Regions from separate parts of the Homo sapiens genome. Here region 1 is linked to region 2. Evidence: fine-mapped expression QTL. A gene starts in region 2. The other region holds a variant in brackets. All regions are shown on one strand. Distances are from middle to middle. Region 1 overlaps LOC124904583. Region 2 holds the start of CYB5R1 (cytochrome b5 reductase 1).

What was found. PIP is the estimated chance that this variant, and not a neighbour inherited with it, causes the effect. A credible set is the group of variants that fine-mapping cannot tell apart.
Region 1: its variant is the best candidate, but not a certain one, in a credible set for the expression of CYB5R1 in whole blood (TOPMed, PIP 0.75).

Annotation. Positions count from the first base shown.
Region 1 is chr1:202,819,898-202,825,269 of GRCh38, forward strand. All of the region lies in intron 2 of LOC124904583, which reads right to left. It also overlaps the pseudogene MGAT4EP. Among named protein-coding and RNA genes, the nearest start is that of PCAT6, 12 kb to the left of the region's middle. The variant G/A (reference allele first, on the strand shown) is at 2,142.
Region 2 is chr1:202,964,187-202,969,558 of GRCh38, forward strand. CYB5R1 (cytochrome b5 reductase 1) reads right to left here and starts at 3,071. Exons shown (of 9, transcript NM_016243.3): 1 at 3,005-3,071; 2 at 2,563-2,712; 3 at 2,342-2,414; 4 at 1,701-1,807; 5 at 1,185-1,314; 6 at 426-509. The coding sequence starts at 3,019. RefSeq lists silencers at 2,979-3,028, 3,099-3,258, 3,875-4,169.

The sequences.
Region 1 (5,372 bases), 140 kb before region 2:
ACTTGGGAAGGCGAGAGGGAGTAGGAGTCCGAGCCTAAGCGTCAGTGGAACCAACAGGAGGGAAGGAGAGAATGTAGGAGATACATAAGGAAGTAGGGGACACGGTGCGGGTGGGGAGGTGAGTGCTCAGTATCTAAAAAGATACTGATGCTGGTCTTTAGGGTGAATGCGAAGTCATAGCTCCCAATGATGAAGCACAAACAGGTCACATGTAAGTCCTGCATGTGCATTCCTCTGACAATGGGGAGTAGGTGGCTAGGACACAACAGTAACATCACAGAGGGAGCTTAGCTCAAGGATAGAAAACTGGGGAGACCTTTGTTTGCTGTGCCTGGCCTCACCCTCTGTTCATTACTCCTAGAGTGACTGGTCCTTATCACCCCAGCTCCTTTTTGTTTTTCTGTCTCCTGCCTTTTCCAGAAGTCTGTTGAACTCAAAGGGCTGAATGACAGCAGTCTTCCCTCCGTGACTGGGAAACTACACGGGAGGTACCAAAGGGGAACAGAGCTATGCCTGTGGTGGTGAAACCCTTTAACTGCAATTAGAGCCTTATTCCCTGCCTAAAGCCTTTTTTTTTTTTTGAGAGAGAGAGACAGAGAGGGTCTCACTCTCCCCTAGGTTGGATGGAGTGCAGTGGCACAATCTCAGCTCACTGCAGCCTCGACCTACTAGGCTAAGGCGATCCTCCCACCTCAGCCTCCCGAGTAGCTGGGACTTCAGGCATGTGCCACTACACCTGGCTAATTTTACTTTTTGTAGAGACGGGGTCTCACTATGTTGCCCAGGCTGGTCTCCAACTCCTGGCCTCAAGTGATCCTCCTGCTTTGGCCTCCTGAAATGCTGGGATTGAAGGCCTGAGTGCCCACACACTTTCACTGGGTGATCTTTATCCAAGTCCCACCTCGCCTGGCCCAAAAGCCCCCACCCCTTTTTTTTTTCCCCTGAGGTGGAGTCTTGCTCTGTTGCCCAGGCTGGAGTACAGTAACACAATCTCGGCTCACTGCAACCTCCGCCTCCCAGGTTCAAGTGATTCTCCTGCCTCAGCCTCCTGAATAGCTGGGATTACAGGCACATGCCACCATGCCTGGCTAATTCTTGTATTTTTAGTAGAGAAGGGGTTTCGTGATGTTGGCCAGGCTGGTCTCGAACTCCTGACCTCAGGTGATCCACCTGCCTCGCCTTCCCAAAGTGCTGGGATTACAGGCGTAAGCTACCATGCCCAGCGGTGTATACACACACACACACACACACACACACACACACACGCACACATTTATGGTCTAGAGAAGAGAGGCCTATTTCTTTTACATGAAGAGGTTTGTATGTGAATCACCTATGGGACTAAAAGTCTTTCCTAAAGGAAGCCAAGTAAGAAAAGTTTAATCTGTAAAGCCTTACTACTATAAGATTTTTTTTTCCTCATCACTGTGATTACCTGGAGATATAAGTATTATTGTTATTATTTGTTTTTCTTAAACAGAGGTGGAGCTCTCCCTGTGTTGCCCAGGCTGGTCTCAGTACTACTGGGCTCAAGCAATCCTCCTGCCTCAGCCTCCCAAAGAGCTGGGATTCCAGACGTGAGCCACTGTGCCCAGCCTACTTTTATAACTCATCAAAAAGCGAAGTGGCTAAGGGAGAAAAGCATGTTAACCTCTACCAAAATACTAAACTGGAAGGCATCCCTGGAATGGGGAAGATTAGAGAACAGTATGGCCTCAGGAGCACAGAAATCACTGACTACAGCTTTTCTTTTGTGTACTGATCACACAGGGAAAGAATCAAGAAGGGGTGAGAAGGCATGTTAAAGCCTTTCCTCTGATAATCTTGAAGCAATCAGAGAAACACATCTCACTAGAGAAAAAACACTCACAGAGGAAGAGAGCAGCATACAAGCACTTCTGAGGCTGAGCCAGCCTGAATTCCAATAACCCAACATGCAGGAAAGGATTTTTTTTTTTTTACTCTAAGTTAACAGAATCATGTTCTAATCAAGGTCTGTGAATAAATTAAGGATACTCTTTATGAAAAAAAGTGAAAGACACCAATTTGGCATGGCATTTGGCAACACTTCAGGTTTAGTTGTTTTAATAGTTTGATTTGGTTTTTAAAAATGTGGGAGGCAGGGTGTGGTGGCTCACGCC[G/A]GTAATCCCAGCACTTTCAGAGGCTGATACAGGAAGATCACGTGACCCCAGGCATTCAAGATGACCCTGGGCAACACAGGGAGAGCCTATCTCTACAAAAAAAAATTTTTTTTTTTAATTAGCTGGGTGTGGTGGTGTGCGTCTGTCATCCCCGCTACTTGGGAGGCTGAGGTGGGAGGATCGTTTGAGCCCGAAAGGTCAAGGCTGCTGTGAGCCATGATCACGCCACTGCACTCCAGTCTCAGCAACAGAGCGAGGCCTTGTCTCAAAAAATAAAGTAAAAAAGCAGGGGTAAGGAAAGTACAATGGCCATCTGTTTACTCAGATAAATTGACTGTATCAGCCAGGCACGGTGGCTCACGTCTGTAAACCCAGCACTTTGGGAGGCCGAGGCGGGCGGATCATGAGGTCAGGAGATCGAGACCATCCTGGCTAACAAGGTGAAACTCCGTCTCTACTGAAAATACAAAAATTAGCCAGGCATGGTGGTGGGCACCTGTAGTCCCAGCTACTCGGGAGGCTGAGGCAGGAGAATGGCGTGAACCCGGGAGGTGGAGCTTGCAGTGAGCTGATGCTGTGCCACAGCACTCCAGCCTGGGCAACAGAGTGAGATTCCGTCTCAAAAAAAAAAAATTGACTGTATCACTAAAGCTTCAGCCAACCTTCATCATTTTGAGTAGGGGAGACTTTGGGGAAGTTGAATCTCCAAGCATATGAAGTGAATGCAACAAATATCATCACGGGACATGTGATCTTCCTTCTTTAGCAGGGAATAAGGCTCTATTGTATCAGGTTCCTAGATTAGATAAAAGGGTGTGCTTGGATGGCAGGCACAGTGGTTCATGCCTGTAATCCCAGCACTTTGGGAGGCTGAGGCGGGCAGATCACTTGAGGTCAGGAGTTCGAGACCAGCCTGGCCAACATGGTAAAACCCCGTCTCTACTAAAAATACAAAAATTAGCCAGGCGCAGTGGTGCGTGCCTGTAATCCCAGCTACTCGGGAGGCTGAGGCGGGAGAATCGCTTGAACCCAGGAGGCGGAGGTCATAGGGAACTGAGATCTTGGAAATAAGTTAACAATGAGGAAAGATAGAATATGGGGGCAGACATGGGGTGGTTAATACAAGTGGAGAAGCCTTCCAGAGGGCAGAAGGGAAGTTCTAGGCATGGACTGGAGGGAGAGAGTCCTCCAGCTGTACACGTTGACTTCTTGCTATAGGAACCGTATCCTGACGCAGACGCGATGCGGTGTTCCATCAGGAAATGCTTCATACTCTCAGTGGGCATCGTATTCCTGTGGCCCTTCATCACTTTGAAAATCCCCAAGGAAACTGAAGATGATCAAAATGTGATGACTGTCAAAGGCCAAGTAGCAAGCCTTGAGCCTTGCTCAGTTTGGGAACTGGGAATATAGGGTGGAAATGGTGTGGACAGGCAGATTCTGGAAAGCCCCTGGGCTTTCTTCCTTCCTGACCTTTTCACCTGAGAGCAGGAAGCTCCAAAGGGAATGGGGGTATGGACCTGGGCCTATTAGTCCATGAAGAAGCTGTATTTATTTTCCTTATTCGTTAAGGTAAAGAAGACAGCAAATACTGCTTGAGCCCTGGATATTTTAGCCAATGGCCAGGCATCCTGAGAATGTGCCAGGCTCACTCTAGGGAGAATGGTTCACTCCACCTCTTTCCCTAGAAAAGCTTATGGGAAGCCACTGGGGTGTAAAATTTGTTCTTTTTATGAAAGGATATATATGTTTGCCCTTGTCAATGCCCCCGGAGGCCAGTTATAACAGCCGGAAGGACCCAAGATCACTAGAAGACTGGCAGAACCTCACCTTCAAATATATGGAAAAAATCCAGAAGAGAAGAAAGAGTGAGTACCAACAAGAAGGAGGAATTCAGCATCCCAGGGGAAGTAGGGACAGCCAGAGAGATCAGGCAGATAGGAAGGAAAGCAGAAGAGGGAAGGAGAAAAACAGACTGTGCCCAGGAATATTAGAATCCGGCAGACAATGGCCAAGTGTGGTGGCTCATGCCTGTAATCCCAGCACTTTGGGAGGCCTAGGTGGGTGGATCACGAAGTCAGGAGTTCGAGACCAGCCTGGCCAAGATGGTGAAATCCCATCTCTACTAAAAATACAAAAATTAGCTGGGCACAGTGGGGGACATCTGTAATCCCAGCTACTCAGGAAGCTGAGGCAGGAGAATCGCTTGAACCTGGGAGGCGGTGGTAGCAGTAAGCCAAGATCGCACCATTGCACTCCAGCCTGGGCAACAGAGTGAGACTCCTTCTCAAAAAAAAAAAAAAAAAAGAATCTGGCAGTTAATTCTCTCCTCCTTCCCCAAGGCAAATATTTATATATCAGCAGTATGAGGAGGAAGGAGGAAAAAGATAAAGTTGGCTACTACTTTTCTTTTTTTCCCTTCTTGGCCAGTTACTAAAGTTAATTGCTATAAGAAGGTGGAATCACTAGATTAGAGAACATTTGGATCAGAAGGGGTCTTAGAGTCGCATAGTCCAACTCCCCCAGTTTATGGATCAGGAACTAAACTCAGGGCTGAAGGGACTTGCTCAAGATCACACAATCAGTGGCAGAACTGGGACAAAAACTCCAGGCTCCTGACTTCCAGGGGAAGTCCTTTTCCTAATATACCTCCTTCAAAGGGCAGCTTTGGGAAGACGACAACAATTGACAACAATATAATAATATAATTGACAACAATTATAACTATTATAATAGCTAACATTTATTGAGCCCCTAAACCATACGCCACAAAGTTCTAGGCTCAAAGAAGACTGAGCAGAACCCACAGACACTCAGCATCACCTAGCTTAGTACTTCTCAAACTTTACTGTGCATACAAGTTACCTGGTGATACTGTGAAAATGCAGCTTCTGATTAAATCTGAGATAGGGATCGAGATCCTGTATTTGAAATGAGCTTACAGAGCAGCCTGATGTTGCTGGACTAAGGACCACACTTCGAGCAGCAAGGATGTAAACATCCCCTCCACCAAGGGAAAAACAGGTGGGAAATAAGAGGGAGGAAGGAAGAGTGAAGGTCCCACATAGGATCCCAACCCCTAACCCTTCTGACAACCGTCACTATTACTGTGCACTGACAGTTGTCCCTATTTTTACCTCTCCTCAGCATGGCTGACAGTGGGGAATCTCATCAGTGCAGCAAGGGGATGGAAGCAGCCTCTTGTACACATTGGTCTCCCTGTTCCGTGTT
Region 2 (5,372 bases):
TAAAAGGAAAAGGCTAGTACCTACTTCATAGATACCTATATATGTGTCTAATTTTTGTGTCTAATATATAGTAGTGTATTAGACTACACAGTGTCTAATGCACAGTAGTGTCCAATGCTAATTTTCTTTCTTCCTAGCTAGTCATTCCTAGCTGCTTCTCTCTTCTCTCACCTAAAACTATTAGATCCATTCAAAATGAGGAAAGCTCATTTAATTTGTTTCTCTAATTCCATCAGTTAAAATTTTTTTTGGTTTCTACCTGCTTATGATTTTGTTTTTCAGATACTAGGGAGTTCTAAGCATTGCTGGAAATCCCCTGATGAACAACAGCTTGGCTATGGTTACCAGTCTTCAGAGGGTCACCTAGGAATTTGCATGGCAACAGTCAACAATGGTGGGAGAGAAAGGCCCTCAGTGTAATGCACCTGTCCCGCCGGCAATCATTCCCAGTTTCTTCGCCACTCGGGGTTCTGGTGGAGATTTCTTGTTGGGCTGAATGTTAAAATGCCCTGAGAGGTCAGGTGAAGAGAGCAGTGGAAGAATAAAGTCAATACAGCGAACTTAGAAAACAAATGCAGAGTTGAAAATATGCCTGAGGCCAGTTGAGCAGCTGCTATGACATCTGATCCTGGAGCTTGGGTGGAAGCTTGAGTTGAGCCAGCCCTGACAATAATATAGTTGAGGGACAATGGGGCCAGGGCTATCTGTGAGTCAGTTCAGCGCCACACAATGTATCAGCTGCTTCTGGCAAAGTGTCACTCCCTGGTGAAGGAGACAGGCACAGAGCCAGGTGTGAATCTATTTTCCCAAGTGGCACACAGCAGCTCCAGGGACTTGCTAATGCACCCAGCTGTTCCCATGGGAAGGGCTGAAAGCTATCTCTGGCTCACTCCACAGCTCACCCAGGGGGGCAAATTTTTGAAGGTGGGGAAGAGGGGCACATGTTTGCTTTAGTAATCTCCACAGCTGCCATGGCTAGGGAATTCAAGTGGAGGAGGAACTGCTTCCTGTGGCAAATGGGGCTGAGAAACATGCCTTTCTATTGTATCAGCGCTATGTTTAGAAGGAAGGGCGGCCCTGGCCCTTACGTGCATACACATGTGTACACACAGCCATACTGTGCCAAGAGGACTATGGGAACTGATAAAGTGGGAGACAGGCTCAAGGAGAAGACAGGTCATTACCTTTTCCAGTGTAAGTGAGCAACCCGCTTGGCCCCCGAAACTCCACCACATCCCCAACCTTCAGGCTATCCAGGTACTGAGACATCTTCCCTCCCTCAGGAAATTTGGGGTGCACACCCTTCAGGTAGACCTTACAAGACAGAGAGAAAAATACCTTATTTGGAATGTCACTGGTTTCTGAGCCCCATGTTGACTAAACCTCCCTGAGGCTGGGGCAGGGATCAGATATGTGCTATCTTTTCCCCGTCTACATACTTTCTTTCTTTCTTTTTTTTTTTTGAGTCAGAGTTTTGCTCTTGCTGCCCAGGCTTGAGTGCAGTGGCGCAATCTTGGCTCACTGCAACCTCCGCCTCCTGGGTTCAAGTGAGTCTCCTGCCTCAGTCTCCTGAGTAGCTCATACTTTCTTCACATCCACAGAGTACATACCATTTCCTGCTGTCAGGCAAATCTTAGAAATTTCTACAAATCCCAGAAAGAATGGGTAAGCAGCCCCTGGGTCCCTTCCTAGCCCCTTACCTTGATGACAAGATCCACATAGCCTTGATCCTCATCACTGGTGACAGGAGTGTATGGCCTGATGACCAGGCTGCCATCAATTCGGGTGGAGAGGTAGATATGTTTGCCTGGGGACCGTGCAGAGAGCTACATAAGGGTTGTCTGTGATGTGCTGCATCCCTCAAAATACTCAAAGAGATTTGAGAGAACAAGATGTCTTGCTTCCTGCTGTGGTCCCAAGGAGCTACAAGGCAGGGAAGATTTGCCCCATTGAGCCCTCAGTTGGATCTCTTATAAGCGCCCAGTTGAGGAAACACTTATTTCCAGCGTTTCCTGCCAGTTACTGCCAGGACCTTGACAGATGAGCCAAAAGGGTCTGGGCAATGGGAAAAAGTTAGTAGTGCTTGCTCAGAGGGAGTAATTAGCAAATCCTGCAGGGAAGAGGCAAGACTGTTGAGTGTTAAAGCTGGATGGGGGTCATGGAAGCCACACTCTAGAGGGGCCCAGTGGCACCTCACAGCTTGGAGGATGCAGAGCCAAGTGGGGGAAGGGGAATGGTGTGTGGAGCAAACCGGTTGAAGCAGCGTGTTTCATGAGATCCCAGGAGGGGAGTCACCTTCTGAGGATACCAGGGAAAGGAGCCCATTCCACACTTTCCTTACCCACAGGCAGCCCCAGAGTGTGGTGGGCGGTGGGCAGGGCAAAGCGGAACCTCTTGGTGTTGTGGCTCACAGTCTGGAGGGTGGAGGACACAAGTGTTTCACCAAGCGCGCCTGGCGCTGCCACGTCCCTTGGACATCCCAACCACCGTGGGTGCTGTACCCTCCATGCCAGGAGCACTCTGGTCCCCTCCTTCACCCTGGCCCTTTCTTCCCCAACTTACCGTCTTGTCTAGCAGTCGTAGCAGGTACTTTTCATTGGGGTCCAGGAGAGTGACCTGAGGCCGGCGGGACCTCCGAACCAAGTAGGAGCCCACAGCCAGGCCGAGCAGAGTGACCAGCCCCACCCCCAGGGAGGCCAGCAGGACGGGGCTCTGTGGGTAGAGGAGGCAGCGTGACCGCCAGGCTGGGTAAGAGCCCGGGGCTTGGGTGGTGACCGTCCCAGGGGTGGCGATCCCGAGCTCCAGCGCGGAGGCATGCCAAGGGCAGAGGGGTAACCTGGCGGAGTCCCGAGCCCGGATGTGCGGGATCGGGACCCCAGCATCCACGGTGGGCCCAGAGCCCTGCGGGGCGGGGTCGGCAGCGACAGCCCCTGGTCCGGAGCTGAGTGGCCAGAACCAGATGGGGAGGGGTCCCCCAGTGGAGGATACTGAATGAGGGTCTTACCGTCTGGATCCCCATGACGGAGCGCCTTTTCCTCCACCACCTGACAAGCCGACAGATCCCACAATGCGCCGCGGGGCGGGTCGGAGGGCGGGGCAGGCCGGGGGCGGGGCCGGGCAGGAGGCAGGACCTCGCGGCTGGGGGGGCAGGAGGCGGGGCCTGGCGGGGGGGGGGGGGGGTGTCTGTCGGGGGCGGGGCCTAGCAGGAGGTGGCGGCGGCGGGGCCTTTTGGGGGCGGGGTCCGGCAGAGGCGGGGCTGGGCCCCTCTGCGCGCCACCCTTTCCCTCCGCTACTCGGTGGCTCAGGGTCTCCGGTGCTTATTCAATACTTTTTTTTTTTTTTTTGAGTCGGAGCCTCGCTCTGTCGCCCAGGCTGGAGTGCAGTGGCGCGATCTCGGTTACTGCAACCTCCGCCTCCCAGTTTCAAGTGGTTCTCCTGGCTCCGCCTCCCGAGTATCTGGGACTACTGGCGTGCGCCACCACGCCCGGCTAATTTTTTTTTTGTATTTTTAGTACAGACTGGGTTTCACCGTGTTGGTCAGGGTGGTCTCGAGCTCCAGGGCTCAAATAATCTACCCGCTTCGGCCTCCCAACGTGTTGGGATTACAGGCGTGAGCCATCGCGCCCGGCCCCAAGATCTTTTAAGACCGCAGCTCCAGCCTCTCCTCCCAGCGAGGTGGTCCCTGCCACTTCGACCCGCTTATATCCGAACTGGATGGGAGTTCTGCCTAAGGTAGAACCACGCTAAATTGGGGGATTGGAAATCTCTTGAGTCTGCGGGTGCTGAGCGGAGAGTGTAACGATGAACCAGAGACAGGCTCAAAGTAGAGCAGAAGGGCCTGAAGTTAATCATTGTGCAGTCACCTTAGTTTTTCAACCGGCTGAATTGCAGCAAGAGAATGGAACAGCCCAGAGGAGTCTCTTACAGGAGTGAACAGTGGCATGGCAACTTCATTTCCTTTTGACAAAAGACTGATTTTGTTTACAGCGCCAAGCCGTCAGCCTATCAGGATGATTCAGGAGCTTCCTTTGGTTTCAAAGACCAAGCTTCACATCCTGATTTGGGTTCTTGTGCCCTTAGGGTCAAAGAAGTGGGCTTTGGAGGCAGAGTGTACAGAATAAGAATCTTGCCTCTAGCACTTATTGGCTCTGTGACCTTAGATAGCTTACTCAACCTGAGTTTCTTCATCTACAGATGGATATAAGATGGATATCTACAGATGGATATATATTATTATCTACAGATAGATTGTATCTAGTTCATAGCTTTGGTGTGAGGCTTCAGTGAGATATGTTAACGTGCTTAGTGTAGTGCCTGTCATAAAGCAAAATATTCAACAGTTGGCAGCTACTATTATAACTTAAAAGACAGCACAGAGGGTCAGCTATGGTTTTAGGAATGAGCTCTGCCTGGGGCACAAGCATGGGACAGGAGGAGGCAGGAAAAAACATCAGGAGCCGCTGGAGCTACAGATTTCCCAAGATGACCATTCTTTCTCATACATGAGTTTCTCAACTAGAATGACATTTGCTCTTTGATATACCGTGATGGATGAGATCTCTGCAGATGTCAGTGTCAACATCTTAAACTAATACCATCAGGGCAGCAGGGACATTAGAGCCCCCAGTTTTCAGTTGTATTTGGTGAACTCTGTGAATGATCCAAGAGATACTTAGTTTTCCTTTTCCTCTCCACTGGCTGAAAATGTTCCTAAGACCCCAGTACATGTTCCTCTGAATTTTTTAAGCAGCCTGCACACTGACTTGAGGGAAGTGAGTGCACCAGATCATGGTGACATGCCAATCCATGCAGAGAGGGTTGAAAAGGGGAAGGAAGGGACCCTTCCTCTTTTCTGTTCCGAGAGAATGAGGCGATTATGTTCCGGTGCTTCTGACATCCCCACTGCTGGCTTGGTTAAGAAGCCACACTACTGATCCTTGCCACTGCTCCACTCTGGCTAAAGAGGTTCTAGGCCTTCCTCCCTCTAGTGGATAGATGTGGCAAGAGAGGGGGAAGTATGGAACGAAAGGAGAGCATAACTACAACTCGGGCTTCTCTCAGTGATTGCATTTTCTGAACCCCAAAGTGGCACATTCTAACAAGTGTGAGTGTATCACTGGGAACCACAGGACAGAATGGTTGGGTGTGGGCTTATCCTGGAAACTAAGTGTTGGACTCAGTAATTGTGGGAAGGCTCTTTTGCTCCTGAAAATGAATGCTGCAGGAGTGGTGGGAAGGGGCTGATGGCCTGGCAGGTCTTCCTGTCTCAGATTCTGTGGTGAATTGAACTCCACTCCACCACGACTCATGGTAATCTTACATTACTCCTAGTTTGGAGGAAAAGATAGGCATTTCTGAATTTTTATTTAACC